Linked DNA regions of Homo sapiens: all the other regions are linked to region 1. The links come from fine-mapping of genetic effects on gene expression. A gene starts in region 1. Each other region holds a variant in brackets. All regions are shown on one strand. Distances are between the middles of the regions. Region 1 holds the start of PRTFDC1 (phosphoribosyl transferase domain containing 1). Region 2 overlaps PRTFDC1 (phosphoribosyl transferase domain containing 1). Region 3 overlaps PRTFDC1 (phosphoribosyl transferase domain containing 1).

Evidence for each region.
Region 2: its variant is fine-mapped to the expression of PRTFDC1 in spinal cord (GTEx, PIP above 0.99). The same link has a PIP of 0.9 or more in hippocampus and putamen.
Region 3: its variant is fine-mapped to the expression of PRTFDC1 in monocytes (Quach 2016, PIP 0.95).

What each region holds. Positions count from the first base shown.
Region 1 is chr10:24,948,602-24,956,785 of GRCh38, reverse strand. It overlaps PRTFDC1 (phosphoribosyl transferase domain containing 1), which reads left to right and starts at 4,180. Exons shown (of 9, transcript NM_020200.7): 1 at 4,180-4,258. The coding sequence starts at 4,211. It also overlaps a transcript of THNSL1 not described here. RefSeq lists a silencer at 3,830-4,019.
Region 2 is chr10:24,848,023-24,856,206 of GRCh38, reverse strand. PRTFDC1 (phosphoribosyl transferase domain containing 1) reads left to right here. Exons shown (of 9, transcript NM_020200.7): 7 at 843-889; 8 at 4,743-4,819; 9 at 6,316-7,593. The coding sequence ends at 6,363. Among named protein-coding and RNA genes, the nearest start is that of PRTFDC1, 100 kb to the left of the region's middle. The variant C/G (reference allele first, on the strand shown) is at 4,725.
Region 3 is chr10:24,917,592-24,925,775 of GRCh38, reverse strand. The region is part of intron 3 of PRTFDC1 (phosphoribosyl transferase domain containing 1); the gene reads left to right. Among named protein-coding and RNA genes, the nearest start is that of PRTFDC1, 31 kb to the left of the region's middle. RefSeq lists a cis regulatory region at 4,239-4,249 and an enhancer at 4,172-4,316. The variant T/C (reference allele first, on the strand shown) is at 3,268.

The DNA.
Region 1 (8,184 bases):
CAGGCTGGTACCAGTTTGCAGCCCGGTAGTTGGGGACACCTGCTGTATGGCACAGCAGAATGATATATTTAACAATAATGTGTTGTATATTTCAAATCAGCTAGAAGAGACAATTTTGAATGTTCTCACCACAAAGAAAAGAAAAATGCTTGAGATGATGAGTATGCTAATTACCCTGAGTTGATCATTATGCAATGTATACATGTAGTGGAATATCACACTGTACCCCATAGATAATATGTATAACTATTATGTGTCAGTTAAAAATAAAACTAAAAAAAAAAGTAAGTAAACACAATATAAACACCAAAAAAAAAAAATAAATAAAATGCAGAGAAACTACTGCTAAAATGTAATAAAGAGAATGATAGAAAAATACAAGTATATTGACTGGTTATTAACTTTGCAAAGATGCACATCTTTATTCTTATAGCTCTTTCAAAGGTATATTAGAAAATGGACAGTCTGACCAGGGCCTACTTGAGGGTGGAGGGCGGGAGGAGGGTAAGGATCAAAAAACTATGTATCAGGTGCTATGGTTATTACCTGGGTGATGAAATAATCTGTACACCTAACCCCTGCGACATGCAATTTTCCCAAACAAACCTGCGTGTGTACCCCCAAACCTCAAATAAAAGTTGGAAAGGAAAAAAAAAGAAAAGGAAATGGACAGTCTGAGCTAAAATATCCCTTTTTATGAAAAATCTCATTATTTTAATAATTTTATCATTTTTCTGTATTCATTCTCATACCAGCTCTAGACTATCCCTGGACTATAACTATCCCTGATTGGTCACCTTACGTCAATCTTTTATTATTATTATTATTATTTGTTTGTAGGGACAGGGTCTTGCTCTGTCACCCAGGCTGGAGTGCAGTGGTGCAATTATGACTCAATGCAGCCTCAAACTTCTGGCCTCAAGCAATCTTTCCAGCTCAGCCTCCCCAGTAGCTAGGTCTACAGGTGCCACGCTACCACACCTGGCTAAGTTTTTAATTTTTTATAGTGATGTGGTCTTACAATGTTACCCAGGTTTGGTCTTGAATTCCTGGCCTCAAGTGAGCCTCCTGCTTTGGCCTCCCGAAGTGCTGGTATTACAGGTGTGAGCCATGGTGCCTAGCCCCATCAACCTTAAAAGACAATTCCTTGTCATTTTCACATGGAATAATTTTACAAACATTTGGTCATACATTTTTACAGCATGTCAGGTTAATAATATCTTACAGTTTTATAGCATTTTGCAAAGAATTCTCTTGCATGTTATCTCACATTCATCTCATCATCATATGCAGTAGAGAATAAATGGGTGGCTCCATTTTATGGATGAGAAAATTGATGTATATTACACTGATATAATTGGCTTAGACTCATTGGCTAAAGTAACATGGATTGTTACAGAAAAATAGAGGTCCTAGTCCAAAGCTATTCCACTAGACATGTGATATGGTTTGGCTCTGTGTCCCCACCCAAATCTCATGTTGAATTGTAATTCCCAGTGTTGGGGGAGGGATCTGGTGGGAGGTGATTGGCTCATGGGGGTGGATTTCTCCCATATTGTTCTCGTTATAGTGAGTGAGTTCTCACAAGATCTGATGGTTTAAAAGTATGTGGCACTACACCCTTGCTCTCTCTCTCTCCTGCTCTGCCATGGTAAGACGTGCTTGCTTCCCCTTTGCCTTCTGCCATGATTGTAAATTTCCTGAGGCCTCCCAGCCTTGCTTTCTGTACAGCCTGCAGAACTGTGAGTCAATTAAACCTCTTTTCTTCATAAATTATCCAGGTCTAAGGTAGTTCTTTATACCAATATGAGAACAGACTAATACAACATGTAACAGAAATTTGAGGTTTAAAAAGAATTTTTGCCTCTAAATCCTCATAATGCAAGATTAAGAATAAAGCCTTGGACAGATGAGCTGTTATTTCTGGATACCGGTCTTTGCAAATACTATTTGGGTTATCAAGTATTATTTTGTATTATGTTAATGCTCTCCAAAGTATCGAAGTGTAATCAGACCGCACAAAGTATTATCAAAATATACAAAGATAATAAAATGAATTAGATTTTTAAAAACTATTTACTCATCATTCTGTGCCCTTTATAGGATGACCTATATAAGTCTATGTAGGATGTTCTTGAGCACACATTCATAAGATTCCTGTTGTCTTTCAAGCAAGTTACATTTTTCACTGTGAACTTGTTGGATTTTACGTTTAAACTAATAGCCTTTCTAAGGGAAGAAGATTTATCTACCATTTCCCTTACATCTTCCGCAGTGTCTAGGCTGGAACCAAAGTTGATGCTTTTTGACTTCTGTATGGCAACTACTCCTGTGACATATTTTGAAGTTCCTGGTACCCCCCAATCTGGCCCTGCACCCACACTGAGCCTCATGGCTAAGTTTTGATATCCAAGCAGTAAGATGGTCTAGTGGAATCCCCTAAAGCATGGGTCATGAGCCACCCACATCACACCCATCTGGTGTCTCTCAGCAGGTACAGGATTCTAGGTGCTTCCACAGATCTTCCCCACCCAGTGAAGCTGCATTAACCAGCTCCCCAGGAGAGTCTTGTGAACTCTAAAGTTTGATCATCATCCTAATGATAGCACTTTTCTGCTCCTGGAAATTTTAATGATGTTGCTTGTGAATATGGTTCCTGGGCCTGGTCTTTGAAAATGAAAATAAAAGATGGTGCTTGACTTTGGGGAAAAGAAGTGAGATGCAGACTACAAAAATGGCTCAAAACAACGCCCTCTCACAATTACTAGGAGAAAATGTTTACCCGTGTGCTGAGAAACAACACCCCCCATTTCTGTAAGGCAGTTGCCAAGCAGATGCCTGATTTCAGGGATCTCTGGAGCTGCACCCTCCAAGGCGCTGGCGCTTAGAAACGACATGAAGAGCCAGCCCTGCTGAGCAGGACCAGGGCGCCAAGTCTGAATGACTAATATTTTTCCAACCTAGAACGTCATTAACCGATTGATAACTATTTCCCCTTTAAACTAGGCAAAATCAGCATTCCTCTCCCCTCTGTGTGCCAGAATTCGAAGATGAACAAAAGACGCCTGCATCAGGAAAACTGTGTTAAGTTCTCTTGGATTCAGGGCTTCGACCCGAATTGGGCTGAGTGAATGAAGACGCTGGTGAGATGTCAGGGACCTGGGGAATGAAGACACACCCAGAAAAAGCAGGAACCTACAGGAGTGGACAAAGAACCGGAGCATAGGCATGTGAGAGGGGTTGAAATGAACAACAGACTCATACAAGAAGGATTTCTAATCAGAAAAGAGCGATTGCTTTAGTAAAGCTGCAACCTGGAACAATTACAATCTGACCAGATGTTCTTGCAAAACTGGTAAAGCAGAGAATGTGTAAAAATCTCTCCCCCTCCTCCCCTGAATGCAGTTGACGAAAGGCCGAAAGGCTGGATCCTCAAAGCCCAGATCTGATCACTGCAGATCCGGGCCACCCTAAAAGCAATCGGGTGTAATCTTTCCAGCTCCAGGCCCTGGGATGAGGGAGGTGGGGGAAGGTGGAGAAAGGTGGAGGAAGATGGAGGGAGGTGAGGGGAGGTGGAGGGAGGTGAGGGGAGGTGGAGGGAGATGAGCGGAGGTGGAGAGAGGTGGGTGGCGGCTCCAAGGTTTGAAAACACATCCAGGACACTTCCCATCCTCCAAGAGCACGCTGGCTCACAGGCTCTTTCACGCTTCTGCTTGGGACAATCGCGTGCATGAAATCTGGCAGGGAGGAGTCAAGGAGATTGTTAGCCCGAGGGCTGGGACGGTGGATCTGGGAATCAGGGGCCTGGGGGACACGTTCTCTTCCTGCCGCGGGCTTCCTGCTCCAGAGTCCCCGCGGGGCTTGGCGGCGGGGCCGGGGGCTGCACGCGACCATCCGGCAGGGGGCGGCGGCGACAGCGGCGGCCGCAAGGGACGCGTCCGGGGCCCGCGCTCAGGGGGAGCGGTAGCGGCTTGGCAGCTGCTCCCCGCGCCCCCGCGGCCTAGCCAGGGGAGGGGGCGCAGCGCCGGGGCCATGGATCCGCGTCAGGCCGCTGCTTCCCGCCGGCGGGCCCGGGGCGGGGCGGACCCGTCCCCGTCCCCGTCCCCGTCCCCGTCCCCGTCCCCATCCCCACGTCCCATCCCCCACGCAGCCTTCGCCCTCCCTGCTCCTTCCCGCGCCGTCTTCCCTTCCCGCGTTCCCCGGGAGAAACATGGCCGGGAGCAGCGAGGAGGCGCCAGACTACGGGCGAGGCGTCGTGGTAAATGCAAACTCCCTATTTTGGGGCTCGGCCCGCTCCCCTCCCTCCCTGGCACCCTGCTTGTAGATTAAATGCTTGCCGTGCGTCGGGGGAGAGAGAGGGCCACCGCTTTGTTCTCCCTCCCGGCGGGGATCGCTTCCATCCTCGGACCCGGGCCTCCTCTCCCCGCCCCCAATCTGACGAAACTCTGAGTCCCGTCCCTTCACCCCGAGTTCCCAGCGTCCCCCCGTGTCCTCCGGCCGGTAGCTCGCTCCTGCAGCGTCCCGCCGGCGCCCAGCCGTCCCCATCCCCGCGAGCCACGGGGAGTCGCTTCTGCGAGCCCGGCAGGGCCCCAGAGACCCCCGCGTGCTGCTCTGGAGGCCTCCTTCTTCCTGGGTCTCCTCTTGACTCCTCCAGGGCGGGCTTCAAGTTTTGTTTTTAAAAAGCACACTGAGGGGTTTTGAAGGCAGCTAGGAAATAAAGTAGCTCAAGTGGACAGAGCTTGAGATTTGAAGCCTTTGGTACCCAGGTTGGGGGCTCTCTGGCAGTGGAGGCCTCTGCAGGAGCTCTAGGACACGCTGGCGGCTCCTGAGTGACCTATGGCTTGTCTGTAAAAGGGAGCAACAGCAAGCTGGGCTCTGGAGCCAATTGGGAGGATGCATGTAAAATATCTAGCAGTGTGTCCGGATGGGAGGGTGTGGGGTGCTGGTTTCCCAGAACTGAGCCTCATTAACCCTGAGAATCCTGACGGTGTCAGCCAGAGGGTACCCATCTCTCAGTGTGCTAGGATCCAACCCGTTCTTGACCTTGTGGCCACGTCCTCCCTGCTCCCTGAGAAGTGGTTTTCCTAGAAGGTGGTGGTTATAACTTGTGTCAGGTTCAGTGTGAAACTCAATGGTGGTGAGGATGGTGGGTGGGGCTAACTTGCCATCTCTTTCCAGGGATCAGCTTGTCATTCACAGATAATCTGTTTATGAATATGAATGGCCTGAACTAAAGTAAGTGGGCTGGGGAGGGAAACGTGTCACATTCAGACAGAAGGGTCAGGTTGAAATGTGGGGCTCAGTGCTTAATTTAACAGCAGGACCTTTCCTTCTGAAAGGATGAGGAGTTGATTTATTCATTCCACACGTTTATTGTCCTGCTGGGTTGTAGGAGGTGCTGTAGGCTCTGGGGTGCAAAAGACAAAGGCCTTGTCTTCATGAGCTTGCGTTCTAGAGAAGACATAGGCAAGCAGTGTGTAAACAAATAGAGAAAATTTCAAATAGAGATATGTGCAATAGGAGGAGGGTAACAGGATAGAGGGTAATTGGAGGAGAAGGGGGGAGTGATGCTTTTGCTCAGGTGGTCAGGGCAGCCTCTCTGCGGTGACCTTTGAGCCAAGATCTGAAGGGTACACAGGAGTAGCCATGTGGACTGCAGGCAGAGACCCGCATACCAAATGCAAAAGAATCATTGTATCCGATTTATGCTTTTACAAAAACCATTCCAGTTGCCCCAGGAGGAGGGGCAAGCCTAGCGGTGTGATGGATGGGAGGGGGACTAAAACGCAAAAAGGGCAATCATTAAGTTCATTCTGGACAAATTGAGTTTGTAGTGCCTGTAAGGCCCACAGGTTGGCCTGCACTGTAGGCAATTTGAAATTCACATTTGGAATTCTGGAGAGTGATTGGAGAGATTTGGAAGTCATCAGCAAAAAGAATAATATGTAATGTTCGGGAGTGCTCAGTGAATATGGAAAAAACAATTAAAGCAACTGTTAAGGATGGAAGCCTGGAAAGTCCCAAATATAAGAGGCTGCCTGTGGGGGAGAAGCTGGTTGAAGGAACCGAGAAAGAACTTTGAAGGGTGGGAGGGCAGGCAGCATGGTGGGTGCCTTGGGAATAGAGCATTGTTGAGCAGGAGGGGCGGGGTCAAGAGGTCATCAGAAGTGTCAGATGTTACAGGGACAGCAAGTCGGATACCAAGATGGAAAACAGCCACTGTATTTAACAATTACAAAGCCATTAGTAGGGAGAATCTTTTAAACAACCACTGCATTGGTAGAATGGTTAAAATATAGTACAAGTTGAGCATCCCTAATCCAAAAATCCAAAATCCGAAATGCTCCAAAATCTGAAACTTTCTGAGCACCAACATGATGCTGAAAGGAGATGCTTACTGGAGCATTTTGGATTTCGGATTTTCAGATTAGGGATGCTCAACCAGGAAGTATAATGCAAATATTCCAAAATCCAAAGGAAAAAAAATCTGAAATTGGAAACGCATCTGATCCCAAGCATTTTGGATAAGGGGTACTCAACTTGTACTACCGTAACATACTACATACTTTTAGAAAAGAATAAGGTGAATCTAGATGCACGGATAGAGTAGGTAAATTGTTGAAGTCTAAAAAACAAGTGAGAGAACACTGTAAATAGCCCAGTCTATTGGTGTCAACAGAGGTCCTCTTGGAAGCAAGGTAATTTTTTGAAAGATGCAAAGAGGTAGTGAGAGGGGTATCAAGAGAGTAGAGGGCCAGGTGAGGTGGCTCATACCTGTAATCCCACCACTTTGGGAGGCCGAGGTGGGTGGATCTCCTGAGGTCAGGAGTTCAATAGAATCCTGACCAACATCGTAAAACCTTGCTGCTACTAAAAATACAAAATTAGCTTGGCATGGTAGTGCATGCCTGTAATCACAGCTACTTGGGAGGCAGAAGCAGGAGAATTGCTTGAATCCGGAAGGTGGAGGTTGCAGCAATCCAAGATTGCACCATTGCACTCCAGGCAACAAGAGTGAAACTCCTTCTTAAAAAAAAAAAAAAAAATAAATAAATAAATAAATAAATAAACAAAAAAAATGAGTATAAACTGGACCAGCTGCCAAGGGGCTTGGTGCTTGCATGAGAGCCCACAAAGGTGGGAAATAATCCACATATAATGGAGATAGTCCCTACATTTACATCCTTTTCTCCAGTAGAACTTGGAATAATTAGATTAACCTCAAGTTGGATATAAGCAGGCAACTTCAGAGCGAATCGAAGCTGCTGGTAGAAGGCAGCTCATGGCATGTAAGGCAGGAGGGAAGGGAGAGCTGGAGAGGATGAGTTTACTGGGAGAATAGAAAGCTCTCAAGGATGGGATACAAAAAATCAAATTAGTACCAGTTTTAAAAAGGGGCAGGTGGCTGGGAGTGGTGGCTCACACCTGTAATCCCAGCACTTTGGGAGGCTGAGAGAGCAAATCACTTGAGCCCAGGAGTTCGAGACCAGCCTGGGCAGCCAACCCTCTCTCTACAAAAAATACAAAACTTAGCCAGGCATGGTGGTGCATGCCTGTAGTCCCAGCTACCGGGGAGGCTGAGGTGGGAGAAGCACCTGAGCCCAGGAAGTCAAGGCTGCAGTGAGCCATGATCGTGCCACTGCATTCCAGCCTGGGTGTCAGAGTGAGACCCCATCTGAAAAAAGGGGCAGAGGGCAGGTAATAATAGCAAGCATTTCTTGAGCACAAATCTGTAAGGGAGGTCTAGTGTGCTCCCCATTTTACAGAAGAGGAAACTGAGGCACTGAGAGATTAAGTAAATCACCCAGGTCGCATAAGTAGCAAATGGCAGAAGCGGGATTTGAACCAGCTTTCAATCACTATACTACATAGCAAGCTGTGATTCCAGGATGGAATTTCAGGGTTGGGGCCATCTGTAGGACTGGTCTGGCTATGTGAATGTATTGCTAAATGGGGAATAAAGATGTGATTTGAGTTAAGAATGTAGTTTGAGCTAAGGCTGGTGAAGGAGCTACAAGATGAAGTCGTTGGAAAGATCGTTGAGGTAGGCATTGGAGTAAATCAGCCAAGGAATTGTCCAGGAATGAGGTAGAGAAGAAAATTCCGAGTTGGTAGAAATCTGTTGATAAAGATGGCAAGGGATGTAGAGTCAGATGATATAAATATAAAACGAGAAGTAAAGTT
Region 2 (8,184 bases), 100 kb after region 1:
GCCTCAAACTTCTGGGCTCAAGTGATCCTCCCACCTCAGCCTCCTGAGTAGCTAGGACAGCTACCTTTTTTTTTTTTTTTTTTTTTTTTTTTTGAGACGGAGTCTTGCTCTGTCACCCAGGCTGGAGTGCAGTGGTACAATCTCAGCTCACTGCAACTTCACCCTCCCGGGTTCGAGCAATTCTCTTGCTTCAGACTCCCATGTAGCTGAGACTGCAGACACGTACCACCATGCCCAGCCAATTTTTGTATTTTTAGTAAAGATGGGTTTTCACCATGTTGGCCAGGCTGGTCTCAAACTTATGAGCTCAAGTGATTTGGCCTCCCAAAGTGCTGGAATTACAAGCATGAGCTACTGTGCCTGGCTGACAGCTACCTTTTTAAAAAGTTTTTTTATATTTTATCTGCTTTTTGAGACAGGGTCTCTTTCTGTCACCTAGGCTGGAGTGCAATAGTGCAATCAAGGCTCACTGCAGCCTTCAACTCCTGGGCTACAACAATCCTCCCACCTCAGCCTCCCAAGTAGCTGGGACTACAGGCAGGTGCCACCACACCCAGCTAAATTTTTTAATTTTTTGTAGAGACAGGGGTCTCGCTATGTTGCCCAGACTGGTCTTGAACTCTGGGCTCAAGTGATCCTCCCACCTTGTCCTCCCAAAGCACTGGGATTACAGATGTAAGCACTGTGCCTGACCTGCTGTCTTCTTTTTATCCAGAACCATCTATATAGTGCCACAGTAGCAAAATATGTATTTCAAGTACATCTTTTAATGATGCTTGATTCTATTTACAATTCATAGAGATTTGATTGGGTTCACTAAAGCATGTCTTTTTTAATGGTAGTTTGTTGGTGAAGAGAACATCCAGAAGTGACGGCTTTAGACCTGACTGTAAGTGTTTTTCAGTTTTTTGTTTGTTTGTTTGTTTGTTTTGTGCTTATGGTGTTTCATTTTATGTTTAAGAATCTTTGGTTTCCTATTTGACAGCATTGCATGTGGATTTGAAACTGTGTAGGGCTGATAGTCCCACGGATTCCTCATGATCTCCCCCACCTTGATAGGGAAAACAGAACCCTTCAAAATGAGGGTCTTCAATGTTCTAATTTGCATCTTTCACAGGAACTCTGTTCCGTGCATTGGGTATTTTTATTTGTATGTTTCACACAGCACCTTAACTACAGAGAAGTCAGCTGAAAAGTTTCAGGGAGTAGAGGAAGACCTGATCCCGCTGGACTGACTCAGACACATAGGATCCCCGCCTTGGCCTCTATTCTCACCAGTCAGACAAGGAGAGGTGCTATGGAGGTTTAGAGGGATTCTTATGCCATCATCCGGAACTATTACCAGACAACGCACAATGGTGACCTTTAGCAAGCCTGAATTGTAACGCACAGAAGGGGAAATCTAAGACAGCTCCCCTTCACCTCCAAACCAAAGCTCCGTAACACAGAGAATTAGCAGAGCAGGTATCTCTAGATACCATCTTCACACTTGACTTCAGATGTGTGTTCTCTAGGGCTTCCTCATCTAGGACACTCTCCTCCCTTCTCCCCATAATAAGCCTAGTTCTAACACCAAGAAGGATAAACACGCAGCCTAATTATTTATTATTCTAACACTAGAGGCGATTTTTTTTCACTTGCATAGGCAGACTTCAGCTTGATTTTTATAACTTACATTTGCTCCAAAGCTCCTGGGATAATTTGGCTACAGTTCTCTTCAGCAAGCTGAACAAACATTAGCGAAAGAGAAGTGCAGTATGGATGGGTGACATGCCAGCGACATTTAGCCAGTGACTCTACATTCTGAAAACAAGTTTCATGCCTGTGCTGGATGTGTTAACTCTGGACCATGTCAGTTCTGGGCAGAGAGACCCAATCGCATGTTCTCATCTATTACTATTATCAAAGGTATAATCTGGATGTAGTCAAGGTTGCATGCGGTTACTAAGCAGAAATTGTCTAAGGAAATAGTACAGGATACTCAGTGTATAAATAAGATTTTAACTGAAGTTGAAAAACATTCACTTCAATGACAAATTTCTTATATCACTTATAATAACAGCAATAAAATAATAGCAGCTAACACTAGGAAGAGGTCGTGATGTGCCATGCACTATTCTAAGAGCTATACAGAGATTAGCTCATTTCATCCACACAATAGCTCTCTAAAGGTAGGAGCTGTTGTTGTACCTATTTTACAGATGAGGAAATTGAGCACAGCAAGCTTAAATAGCTTGCCAAAGTCATGTAGCCATGAGTGTCAGGCCAATATTAAGCCCAGGCAATCTGGTTTCAGTCACTGCCCTGACTCTTCCACTACATCTGCAAGTAACATCTGCTATTGCAAATGTAAGTGTAGGAGCTGCCTGCATTTACCAGCTAAGGATAGGTCACTCTGATTCATGATTGTCCTGCTGATCCATCATCCTTTTATTCTATGACATCTCAAGTTTTGGCCTTCTAAATAGGCTTTGGGCTCTCATTTTCCCAGTGTGAGTTGCCCTGCCTAATGGAAGGATTGCATTGCTCCCTATAAAGTCATTATTATAACCCTGGTTACAAACAGGGTTTCTTGGGATTTGCTCATATTATTATTATTATTATTTGAGACGGAATCTGACTCTGTCGCCCAGTGCAGTGGCGTGATCTTGGCTCACTGCAACTTCTGCCTCCCAGGTTCAAGTGATTCTCCTGCCTCAGCCTCCCAAGTAGCTGGGACTACAGGTACCACCACACCTGGCTAATTTTTGTATTTTTAGTAGAGATGGGGTTTCACCATGTTGGCCAGGCTGGTCTTGGACTCCTGACCTCAGGTGATCCACCCACCTAAGCCTCTCAAAGTGCTGGGATTACAGGCGTGAGCCACTGCACCTTACCTTTTTTTTTTCTTTTTGAGATGGGATCTCACTTTGTTGCCTAGGCTGGTCTCAAACTCCTGGCCTCGAATGATCTTCCTGCCTCAGCCTCTTGAATAGCTGGGACTGCAGGTGCGCACCCGGCTTCATATTCTTTTAGCTAGCTCAGAATCTCTGTTCCTTCTTTCTCTCTGGATTTATGAGGCTTTGTACTTTGCGTTCCTTTCTCCTGATTGATTCTTTCTTTTCTCCTCAATGTAACTTCTGACCTCTTCTGCTCTTGCTTCTCCTCTCTTACTCTTTTTTTCAAGAAACTCTGCAGTTTGGAGGAATCAAGCAGGCTTCCTAGCAAGGGACTCCATAATGCAACCCCCTAGAAAATAAGTCCCTCACCTCTAGTACTTATTTTCCTAGCAAGGGACTCCATAATGTAACCCCCTAGAAAATAAGTACCTCCAGTACTTTCTATGAGCATGAACCAGTCGTTTTCTTCTTGTGAAAGCATCGTTGGTCATAGTCACTGTGGAGATGACTTTGCCCAGGCTATAAGCCCACTGGCTGTACCCAAGTACACTTCCATTAAAAGTAAGCAAATAAATCTCTCATCTATAATACTGTAATAAACAAACCTGTAAGATTCCAAAACACTGAAACAAGTTTGAAAATCACTGGACCAGTGCACCTTTATTCTGTTTCAAGACTTCTGAAGAAGGAGAGCTATTGTCTGTTCCTTAAGAATTCTCTCCAATAAGTATTAGCCAGGCGTAGTTTTGCATGCCTGTAGTCCCAGCTACTCAGGAGGCTGAGGTGAGAGGATCTCCTGAGCCTGTGGAGGTAGAGGCTGCCGTGAGCCATGATCACACGCCTGGACAACAGAGTGAGATCCTTTCTCAAAAAATAGCCAGGTTCAGTGGCCCATGCCTGTAATCCCAGCACTTTGGGAGACTGAGGCGGATGGATCACTTGAGGTCAAGAGTTCGAGACTGGCCTGGCCAACATGGTGAAACCCCATCTCTACTAAAACTACAAAAATTAGCCTGGCATGGTGGCACACGTCTGTCTTCCCAGCTACTCGGGAAACTGAGGCAGGAGAATGGCTTGAACCCTGGTGGTGGAGGCTGCAGTAAGCCAAGATCGCGAGACTCGGTCTCAGAAAAAAAAAAAGAATCCTTTCTGACAAAAAATCATCATCTTTTCAATGAATCTTCTTTTGCTTTTCATAAGTACCTTGCACTGTGCTTAAATCCATTTCCTCTCATTCTGCCCTCAGTAGGGAGCTCATTAATATCCTCTGCATCATGAACCCAAAGACCAGCATTAATGCAACCTCCACATTCTCTTCCTCAAGTTGAACAATCCCGTTGCCTTTCATCTTGTGTCCTGGCTTTTGCTTTCCAGCCCTTTAAACAGCCAAGACACTGAGTACAGCGGGAGAATTGCTTTCTAGTTGCTGTGGCCCGCGCACCTGTTCACATAATGCAGCGTCGTAACGCCTTCTGCTTGAACTTTCCTTTGTGTTGTTGAGAGTGTTTCCTTTGGCATCGTATCACTGCATACTGCTTGCTTTAGAACACCAGGGCCACGTGACTCAATTATGCATATTTCTTGTTATGCACCAGGCTTCCTGAGCCCTTTCTCAACTCTGTATGCTAGATCAGTCATTCTTCATTGTAGGTTGGCTTGTTTGCCTTGCCTCCTTCCTCCCGAGTAGTCCTTCGGGTCCAGGTCCCTCTTGGGCTCATCGTGTGCATTTCTCACCATTTCTCACTCCCTCCTGCCTCAATGAAAGGTCCTCAAGTTTGAGTGGCGACAGCAGCATATGGTGACTTGCATTTATATAATCTAAATTTTGTTCCTTTTTTTTTTTCT[C/G]TTTCTCTGTCTGCTAAGATGCTGGATTTGAGATTCCAAACTTATTTGTGGTGGGATATGCCTTAGATTACAATGAATACTTCAGAGATCTGAATGTAAGTCTTGCATGCAAATCCCTAACCGCCCTTTTTATAAGAACTTAACAATTTAAAAAAGTATTGAATGCGTGTTAGTGATGTCTGCTATTGATTGAGTATCTTCTATGTCAGGAGTATGGTGAGCACATTGCATCCATACTCCCAATTAACTCCCACTACTATTCTGCAGGGTAGGTATCAGGATGATAGAGGCAAATTATGATTATCTCTATTTTGTACTAAAGAAATAGGAAGCTAAAAGCAGAACTATGGTTTGACACTGATTCTTCTCCATAGTCATTGACTGTGCCCAACCAACCATAACAATAGCCAATATTCTATACACTGGTTTGTGTCAGTGCTTGAACTCTAGCAGGTTTCAATTACAGTGGCATGCAGCTCATAACTCTTCCCTCTTTGGGGGAAATGATCTCACCACACAGACGTGGACCCCCAGTGTGGACCCCAGCTGTGTGACCCTGACCAACACTGCATGATCTAGAGGTAGACAACTTACCCATAGTGGACCAATCAGTCTCTCTGTCCTGGGAATTAGAAATTTAAACCAAAAGTCACAGAGACTGAGTGTGTTCAGACTTCAACCACTAGGATAGCAGTGCCCCCAGAGAGTATCCATAGCACCATGGGTGAAAGTCTCTGGAGCTGCCCTTGTTCCTGCCTTCTAGTTGCTTCATTGCCCAGCTCATCCTTGGATTCTGAGAGCTACCCCAGTATTCCACCAATAAATTCCCCCTCCCCCCTCTTTAAAGACACAGGGTCTCACTCCACAGTCTCACCTAGGCTAGAGTGCAGTGACGCAATCATAGCTCACTGCAGCCTTGAACTCCCAGGCTCAAGCGATCCTCCCGCCTCAGCCTCCTGAGTAGCTGGGACTACAGGCACACGCCACTATGCCTAGCTAATATTTTTACTTGCTGTAGAGATGGGGTCTTCGTATGCTGTCCAGGCTGGTCTTGAACTCCTGGCTTCAAATCATGCTCCCACCTCAGCCTCCCAAAGTACTGGGATTACAGACAGGGGCCACTGAGCCCATCCAAATCCTCCTTTTTTGCTTACATTAGCCTGGCCCCATTTCTGTTGCTTTCAATCAAAATATTCCTAACCCTTTGCTTGTTGCCCAAAAAGGGTTGAATAAGAGCCCATGTTGTGCTTGCCACTGTTATTTCTCCATTCACCCAAGCAGTTGTCATCTTACCAGTAGGAGACTTCTGTTTCTAGCAGGGCTAAACATACAGCTCCCTCAGCATTTCTGGGTTTTAGGGACCTGGGGAGCCGGATTCAGAATAGGAATCTCCAAACTAAACCACAAAGGACCTTTTGTCAAGCACTTGAATGGGTCTCTTTAGATTTTACCCACACATATAAATACACACATTTCTATTTAAATGATCAATAGCCAATTACAGGATGGCATTCGGTTATTACTGCATCACCTTTTCTGTGTCTCATATTTTGTTAAGAAACTGATGCGTTTAAATCCTTTATTGTTTCAGCACATATGCGTCATCAATGAGCACGGTAAAGAAAAATATCGAGTCTAAAGACATGAATTCTCACCACTAAAGTCCCAGATAGCATCATATTTACGCCTGTACTTGGGAAGCCAGCTGTCAAGTTTGTCCCCCCAGGCATCTTCACTCAGCAGGATATAAAAGAAAAAAATGTTCAAATGAGAGAGCTTTCTTTTCTGAGGTTAATATAAAGAGTATCAAAGGTTCCTAAGGAAAAGAAAGCAGTGCTTTTATTTGACTTGTTCCAAATTAAACACTCCGCCTTGTGACTCAGCAATGCTATCTACCTTCACACTCCTGAGCTCCGCCTTCCTTTGTTTTGATACAGTCATTATATTTGATTAGTATTCCCAGGAATACCCCCACCTAGTTACTCAAATATTTTTCACTTAACTTTTTATACTCTTATTTTGGTAATAAGCTTACAATATTAAGAAGCTGGGGACTTTTTTTTAACTGAAGACTTGAGTCCCCTATACCGGGAATGCAGCTATTAATAGATTCCCATATTTTAAAAGGAGGGAAAGGACAATTTAATATAAATTTCTGTTTGTGCATTTCTGACAGGCCATTATTATCTGCTTTGACAAAGCCTTTCTGAAACGCAGTGTACAATGAATCTTAATGATGTTATGAAACGAGCTTTGCTCGGGGCTCTTGATTGGAGCTTCCGGTATGTGATGACGGTATGTCATGTATGCATGGATGTACTCAACTGTGTTTAATACTCTGAATTTTAATTAGAAAAAAATACAATAGCAGCAAGGCCCTGGTTTCTAAGCTGTATCCTTTTATTCATGTGGGACATGAGCAAATGGCAGAATTAGGGGCGAGTGCTTTCAATGCTCGAAACTAAGCAAGTATAAATTTTTCCTCTTATTTGCATGAAAGGACAAGACACTGTTATGCCCTGTCCTAAATGTGAAGACAGAGGTTGAATTTTTTAAAAAATATCTTTAAAAGACTGATCACAAAATCCAAGGTGCTACAGGAAACAAGCACACTCAAGAAAGTTTTTTTCTGAATAACATTTTTTTCCAATTTCTCCGTTTTATAAGACATTTCCTAATTTATGGGGATTTTAATTGAAAATAAACTTGAGTCCCAATAGAGCTGTTTTTTTCTCACTTCCTACAAAATGCAAATGCAAAATAAATAACTAAGCAGCTTTTGTTTGGTTCTGAACCGTATGTGGCGTATTGTTATTAGGTTCTAGCTTCCTTTAAACTAATAAAGAATAAGAAAACTTGTTATGTTTTATCACTTCTTACTGTTTTTCTTCCGCCTCCATATTTTTTAAATACTTTCAGACATTAACATGTATGTGAGTCAGTAGCTTAAATATACGACTGCATGTATCTATCCTGCGGCTTTATTTTTGTTAACTTGGATTAAATCCAATATATGCACTAGTAGAAGCAAATGATTAAGCTGGGCTAGATCTGCTGCTTTTTTTTTTCCTCAAGCTCGTTTGTGAGAACAAGGAATTTTAGTTGTAAAAGAAGATTTTCCTGCATATCTTTGTTTCGGTCAGAGAAGAAAACAAGCCACACCCAAATATCCCAAGGGATAAGTCTGCAAAAGGAATCTCTTCTAGCTTTGTTTCACAGAAGCATTGGTACCCAAGCTTAGATTTATAATTGTGTCTGACTGACGAATTTCTTGAAATACCAAAATTAACACTCTGAATATAGCTTTTTTTTCACAATGCCATGTTTATGTCAGAGGACCTAGAAAAATCCAGGCACACATTTGGTTTTAAGTGTAAAATTATCCATAAGTATGCAATATGAAAATGTTTTCTTAAAAACGTTGAATTTTAGTAAGCATCAGTATCCTTTCTGAGGACAG
Region 3 (8,184 bases), 31 kb after region 1:
GATAGGGAGCAAGTGACTTAACAGTTAGGAGGGAGGAAGCTGGAAACTAGGAAGGGTCAGACCCACAAGAAAGTGTATGTGTTATTAGTATTAATCACAACAGATGCCTGAAGATTTCAGTTGTATTTCACGTTGTCTGCATTTCCTCCGTTTATCATTTGAAAGCTTGCTGGTCCCATGAAACTTAAGCATGCTATGTATATATACAAAAAATATGCTTGTATTAATCTGTTCTCATGCTGCTAATAAATACATAACTGAAACTGGGTAATTTATAAAGGAAAGAGGTTTATTTATTTTTTTAATTATATTTTAAGTTCTAGGGTACATGTGCACAATGTGCAGGTTTGTTACATAGGTATACATGTGCCATGTTGGTTTGCTGCACCCATTGACTCGACATTTACATTAGTTATTTCTCCTAATGCTATCCCTCCGCCAGCCCCCGACACCCCCTCCACAGGCCTCAATGTGTGATGTTCCCCGCCCTGTGTCCATGTGTTCTCATTGTTCAACTCCCACCTATGAGTGAGAACATGCAGTGTTTGGTTTTCTGTCCTTGTGATAGTTTGCTAAAAATGATGGTTTCCAGCCTCATCCATGTCCCTGCAAAGGACATGAACTCATCCTTTTTTATGGCTGCATAGTATTCCATAGTGTATATGTGCCACATTTTCTTAATCCAGTCTATCATTGATGGACATTTGAGTTGGTTCCAAGTCTTTGCTATTGTGAAGAGTGCCACAATAAACATATGTGTGCATGTGTCTTTATAGTAGCATGATTTATAATCCTTTGGGTATATACCCAGTAATGGGATCCCTGGGTCAAAGGTATTTCTAGTTCTAGATCCTTGAGGAATCACCACACTGTCTTCCACAATAGTTGAACTAATTTACACTCCCACCAACAATGTAAAAGTGTTCCTATTTCTCCATATCCTCTCCAGCATCTGTTGTTTCCTGACTTTTTAATGATAGCCATTCTAACTGGAGTGAGATGTTATCTCATTGTGGTTTTGATTTGCATTTCTCTGATGACCAGTGATGATGAGCATTTTTTTTTCATGTGTCTGTTGGCTGCATAAATGTCTTCTTTTGAGAAGTGTCTGTTCATGTCTTTTGCCCACTTTTTGATGGGGTTGTTTTTTCTTGTAAATTTGTTTAAGTTCTTTGTAGATTCTGGATATTAGCCCTTTGTCAGATGGGTAGATTGCAAAATTTTTCTCCCATTCTGTAGGTTGTCTGTTCACTCTGATGATAGTTTCTTTTGCTGTGCAGAAGCTCTTTAGTTTAATTAGATCCCATTTGTCTATTTTGGCTTTTGTTGCTGTTAGTCTGATGGGCTTCCCTTTGTGGGTAACCCAACCTTTCTCTCTGGCTGCCCTTAACATTTTTTCCTTCATTTCAACCTTGATGAATCTGACAATTATGTGTCTTGGGGTTGCTCTTCTCGAGGAGTATCTTTGTGGTGTTCTCTGTATTTCCTGAATTTGAATGTTGGCCTGCCTTGCTAGGTTGGGGAAGTTCTCCTGGGTAATATCCTGAAGAGTGTTTTCTAACTTGGTTTCATTCTCCCCATCACTTTCAGGTACACCAATCAAACATAGATTTGGTCTTTTCACATAGTCCTATATTTCTTGGAGACTGTGTTCGTTTCTTTTCACTCTTTTTTCTCTAATCTTGTCTTCTCACTTTATTTCATTAATTTGATCTTCAATCACTGATATCGTTTCTTCTACTTGATCGAATCAGCTATTGAAGCTTGTGCATGCGTCACGAAGTTCTCGTACTGTGGTTTTCAGCTCCATCAGGTCATTTAAGTTCTTCTCTACACTGTTTATTCTAGTTAGCCATTTATCTAACCTTTTTTCAAGGTTTTTAGCTTCCTTGCGATGAGTTAGAACATGTTCCTTTAGCTCAGAGAAGTTTGTTATTACCGACCTTCTGAAACCTACTTCTGTCAACTCCTCAAACTCATTCTCTGTCCAGTTTTGTTCCATTGCTGGTGAGGAGCTGCGATCCTTTGGAGGAGAAGAAGAACTCTGGTTTTTGGAATTTTCAGCTTTTCTGCTCTGGTTTCTCCCCGTCTTTGTGGTTTTATCTACCTTTGGTCTTTGATGTTGGTGACCTACAGATGGGGTTTTGGTGTGGATGTCCTTTTTGTTGATGTTGTTGCTATTCCTTTCTGTTTGCTAGTTTTCCTTCTAACAGGCCCCTCAGCTGCGGGTCTGTTTAGTTTGCTGGAGGTCCACTCCAGACCCCGTTTACCTGGGTATCACCAGCGGAGGCTGCAGAACAGCAAATATTGCTGCCTGATCCTTCCTCTGGAAGCTTCATTCCAGAAGGGCACCCACCTGTATGAGGTGTCTGTCGGCCCCTTTTGGGAGTGTCTCCCAGTCAGGCTAAATGGGGGTCAGGGACCCAATTGAGGAGGCAGTCTGTCCGTTCTCAGAGCTCGAATGCTGTGCTGGGAGAACCACTGCTCTCTTCAGAGCTATCAGACGGGGATGTTTAAGTCTGCAGAAGTTGACTGCTGCCTTTTGTTCAGCTATACCCTGCCCACAGAGGTGGAGTCTAGAGAGGCGGTAGGCCTTGCTGAGCTGTGGTGGGCTCTGCCCAGTTTGAGCTTCCCAGCCACTTTGTTTACATACTGAAGCCTCAGCAATGGTGGACGACCCTCCCACTGCCCAGCTACAGCATCACAGGTTGATTTCCGACTGCTGTGCTAGCAGTGAGCAAGGCTCCATGGGCATGGGACTGCTGAGCCAGGCACAGACAGGATGGAATCTCTTTGTCTGCCAGTTGCTAAGACTGTGGGAAAAGTGCAGTATTTGGACAGAAGTGTACGGTTCCTCCAGGTACAGTCTGTCACAGCTTCCCTTGGCTAGGAAAGGGAAATCACCCAACTCCTTGTGCTTCCAGGTGAGGCAATGCCCCACCCCACTTCGGCTTGCCCCCTATGGGCCGCACCCACTGTCCAACCCGTCCCAATAAGATGAACCAGCTACCTCAGTTGGAAATGCAGAAATCACCCATCTTCTGCATCAATCATGCTGGGAGCTGCAGACTGGAGCTGTTCCTATTCAGCCATCTTGGAAGCGACCCAGGAAAGAGGTTTAATGGACTCACAGTTCCATATGGCTGGGGAGGCCTCACAATCATGGCAGAAGGCAAATTAGGGGCAAAATCATATCTTACATGGTGGCAGGCAAGAGGGCATATGCAGGGGAACTCTCCTTTATAAAACCATCAGATCTCATGAGAC[T/C]TATTCACTATCATGAGAACAGCATGGGAAAACCCCACCCCTGTGATTCAATTACTTCCCACAGGGTCCCTCCCATGACACATGGAGATTATTACAATTCAAGGTGAGACTTGTGTAAGCGCACAGAGCCAAACCATATCAATGCGGTAATCAGTTTAACTGATATATACCTGATCTTTTCCAAAAAGGATCTAATGATGTATTTTATTAATTATGCCCAGATAATTTCTCATTTTCTGCAGGAAAATAATTGCAGGCAGCAAAATATTAACAATTATCCTTATTTTATGTTAGGTTATTTTTATCAACATTTTGTAACTGATATAGAATGTAAAATTTAGCATCAAGACCAGGAAAATCTTTTTGAGATTACATATTCCATTTGTATTTTATAAAACACATGAACTTTAAAGTCTAGGAAAGTTACCAGGAAATAATTTGGATTTGGTGGGAAAAAGCAACACAGTTGGATATATAATAAAATGGTTTGGGGAAAATATTTATGGAAAAATAATGCCTTTGACAATTGTTTATGATGCTCATTGTACTATAATAAAGTTTGAGTTTAATGGTTTTATTGTCGTTTTAACCCATAGTGTATATTCCTTTCTTGCATGAGTTTGCCATTATTAAACACAGCATTATTGTTAATCACTCAGGTAATTCAACATGCTTACAATCTGTAGCTTTCAAGGACAAGAATTATTTAATTTTCTACTTATTAATTTGGGATTCATTTGGAGGAGGACAGTTTTGACATTTTTTTGTTTGCCTAGCTTTTTTTTTTTTTTTTTCCTAGAGAACAGAAATGAACTCAAACAGACATTGACAAATAGGAGAATAATGTCATTAAAAACAGGATGACTCTTGGTGAGGAAAAGGGCACAACAGTACGTCAAGGGCCCCCACAGCCCACGCCACAGAGAGGAATGACTAGGCAGGAGTGGAAAGGAAAAGGCCAGCAGTTGGTGATGAGTCAGCAGTACTTTTGCTAAAAATGCTAATCTAATACAGCAGTGGGAAGTGTTGGTTAGCATGTGATCATCGAGGCCTGGAATGACTCCTTCCTCTCTGCAGCTCTCAGGAGTCCCTGTTGAAGGACCGGGATGGGGGCTTTGGTGCCCTATAGACCTCTGTGTGTTGTTTTGGGGTGTGGATCCTCCTCTAATTAGGAAAGATAGCTAGAAGGCAGGCTCAGAAGTCTGCCCCAACTCACACTTCCAAAATTCACATTGGCGTGTGTAAGAGATCTGAGAAATGAAAATGTGTGATATTCTCCCTCATCTTCATATTAAGATAATTTCTTAGGACAAAAATGATTTTTAAACATACCCCTTACTCCAGCGATATCTGAGCCCTGATCACTCAGGAAGTGATAATGACACCTTTGTTTTTTGTTTTTTTGTTTTTTTTTTAATCACTTGTAACCGCTGTGTTGTAGGCAGGGAAATACTTAACCATGAAAGTGACATATTCTTGTTTTATTCCTATACTTAAAGCAAAAGCTACTTACTTTCAGTGTAGGTCAATTTAGATCTGCAAAACAGAATACCATTTTAGATGCTTTGAGGCAGTGTTCCTGTAACAGAATTGTTAGTAATTTTAGAAGATTAGTGAAATATTTTATTTTGAAAACCATTATGGAATTCCATGTTTGTTTCTTTTAATGGATAAATTTAAATATATATCAAATGGATAGATTATTGTAGACTTTTTCAGGGATAGTTATTTTTCCATCAGCAGTACTGTTAGACTACTCTATGCAGAATACATCTACTAGAATGACTTATTTCCTTTTTTGAAAAAAAAATTGAATTTTATTTTAAGTTCCAGGATACATGTGCAGGACGTGCAGGTTTGTTACATAGGTAAATGTGTGCCATGGTGATTTGCTGCATCTATCAACCCATCACCTAGGTATTAAGCCCCACATGTGTTAGCTATTTATCCTGATGCTGTCGCCGCATCTTCCATCCCCAACAGGACCTAGTGTGTGTTGTTCCCCTCCTTGTGTCCATGTGTTCTCATTGTTCAGCTCCCACTTGTAAATGAGAACATGTGGTGCTTGGTTTTCTGTTCCTGCATTAGTTTGCTGACTATAATGGCTTCAAGCTCCACCTATGTTCCTGCAAAGGACATGATCTCCTTCCTTTTGATGGCTGCATAGTATTCCATGGTATATATATATATACACACACATATATATATACACACACACTCATATATATATACACATATATATATAACATTTTATTTATCCAGTCTATCATTGATGGGCATTTGGGTTGATTCCATGTCTTTGCTATTGTGAATAGTGCTTCAGTGAACATAAGTGTGCATGTATCTTTATAATAGAATGATTTATTATATTCCTTTGAGTATATACCCAGCCATGGGATTACTGGGTCAAATGGTATTTCTGATTCTAAGTCTCTGAGGGATTGCCGCACTGTCTTCCATAATGGTTGAACTAATTTACATTCCCACCAACAGGGTAAAAGCTTTCCTATTTCTCCATAGCCTCACCAGCATCTATCGTTTCTTGACTTTTTGATAATCACCATTCTGACTGGCATGAGATGGTATCTCATTGTGGTCTTGATTTGCATTTCTCTAATGATTTGTGATGTTGAGTTTTTTTTCATGTTTGTTGGCCACTTAAATGTCTTCTTTTGAGAAGTGTCTGTTCATGTCCTTTGCCCATTTTTAATGGTTTTTTTTTAATGTAAATTTGTTTAAGTCCCTTGTAGATTCTGGATATTAGCCCTTTGTCAGATGCATAGATTGCAAAAATTTTCTCCCATCTATAAGTTGTCTGTTCACTCTGACAATAGTTTCTTTTGCTGTGTGGAAGCTCTTCAGTTTAATTAGATCCCATTTGTCAATTTGTGCTTTTGTTGCAATTGCTTTTGATGTTTTTGTCATGAAATCTTGGCCCATGCCTATGTCCTGACTGGTATTGCCTAGATTTTCTCCTAGAGTTTTTATAGTTTTGGGTTTTCCATTTAAGTCTTTAATCCATCTGGAGTTAATTTTTGTATAAGATATAAGGAAGGGGTGCAGTTTCAATTTTCTGCACATGGCTAACCAGTTCTCCCAGCACCATTTATTAAACAGGGAGTCCTTTCCCTATTGCTTGTTTTTGTCTGGTTTGTCAAAGATCAGATGGTTGTAGATGTGTGGTCTTATTTCTGAAATCTCTATTCTGTTCCATTGGTCTATGTGTCTGTTTTTGTACTTGTACCATGCTGTTTTGGTTACTATAGCCTTATAGTATATTTTTAAGAGAAAGACTTATTTCTAATATATCCTAAGATATCTTTCTAGTTTATTAGTACCAGGTATAGGATTTTAAAAGTTGAATTTGATTTACTTAAACTAATAATAATATATTGATTGATTACTATTGAAAGTACTATTTTAAGTGCCTTATAAATATTATTTCATTAGTGCCCACCACAACCTGATAAGTAAAGTAATTTATTATCCCCATTTTACATGTAAGGAAAGTGATCCACAGACAGTTTAAGATAGAGCTGGCCGAGAATGGGGCTAAGATGTAAAACTACACAGGCTGATTCAAGAGCATGGAGGCCACAGTCTTTCCACACTGCTTCCCAGAAGGAGGGCCCCATTACCACCGTTCACTTTGGCAAGGAACTCATTTTTATGGGTTTTCCTTTGTTCATTTGTAAAATGATGAGGTTGGATTTCAAGATCTGTAAGGTCCCTGACAGATTTGAAGTTATATTATCTTTAATGTCTTGGAACGTCTATTGAAAAAGGACAGATTGGACCAGGCATAGTGGCTCACACCTGTAACCCTAGAGCTTTGGGAGGCTGAGTGGGGAGGATTGCTTGAGCCCAGGAATTCAAGACCAGCCTGGGCAACATAGTGAGACCTAGTCTCTACAAAAATCTAAAAATTAGCCAGGCATGGTGGTATGCATCTGTAGTCACAGCCCTTGGGAGGCTGAGGCAGGAGGATCCCATGAGCCCAGGAATTCAAGACTGCGGTGAGCTATAATCCTTACTGTACTGTAGCCTGAGCAACAATGTGAAACCCCATTTCTTAAAATAAAAATAAAATAAAATAAAAAAGATATTAACCACACATATTTGATTTGCATTCTCCACTAAAATGACATGGATATATATAATATGATATGATATGATATGATATAGTTAAAAGTGACCTCATATGACAAACTGGACAAGAGAGAAGACAGCAGGTCCAGAGAACATGAATGTAATGGCATGGAGATAAGTTGGACCCAAGTGCCTGCAATGAATGACACCAAAGAAGAACCCAGTTAAATGAGGCCTTGAGAGACTTAGTGCTCCAGCAATGTCAGGGACAGCAGGCAATGAGATGATGTCATTGTGAAGATCATTGGGACTCCCTGGTCCTCCACCCCACTTCCATTGTTGGAAGTCAGGTGACAGCTCTCCTCCCCTCCCACCCAGCCTCATCCCCTTCTACCACTATTGCAGGAAACTGAAGATTAATTTTTCAGAAAAAAATGAACCAAAAAAGTACCAAAAACACGGACACCAGGTAAAACAGAGGCCTGGGGAGATCCAGCTAAACTTTTTATATGAGATTCTGAGACCATCAGCTCTCTTCCTTAGCAGCCGGGCATGTGACCACTCGTAGCCCCCACCAATGAGGCACTGAGGTTTGACAGTGAATGTTCTTTGAGGAAACTGAATGGTTGTAAAGAAAAGACCTCCATCTATTGCATTTGGGACTCCCCCACTGAAAAGGACATCTGTCTCCATGGGAATCCACTAGTAAATCCATCTGTCATCAATCTCTGCCCCCTGATGGACACATAACTCTTTCCCATCAGCTCTTTTGGTGTCTCACTTAGAAGCAAGGAGCACAGTGTCTAGCATGAAACACCAGATGAAACA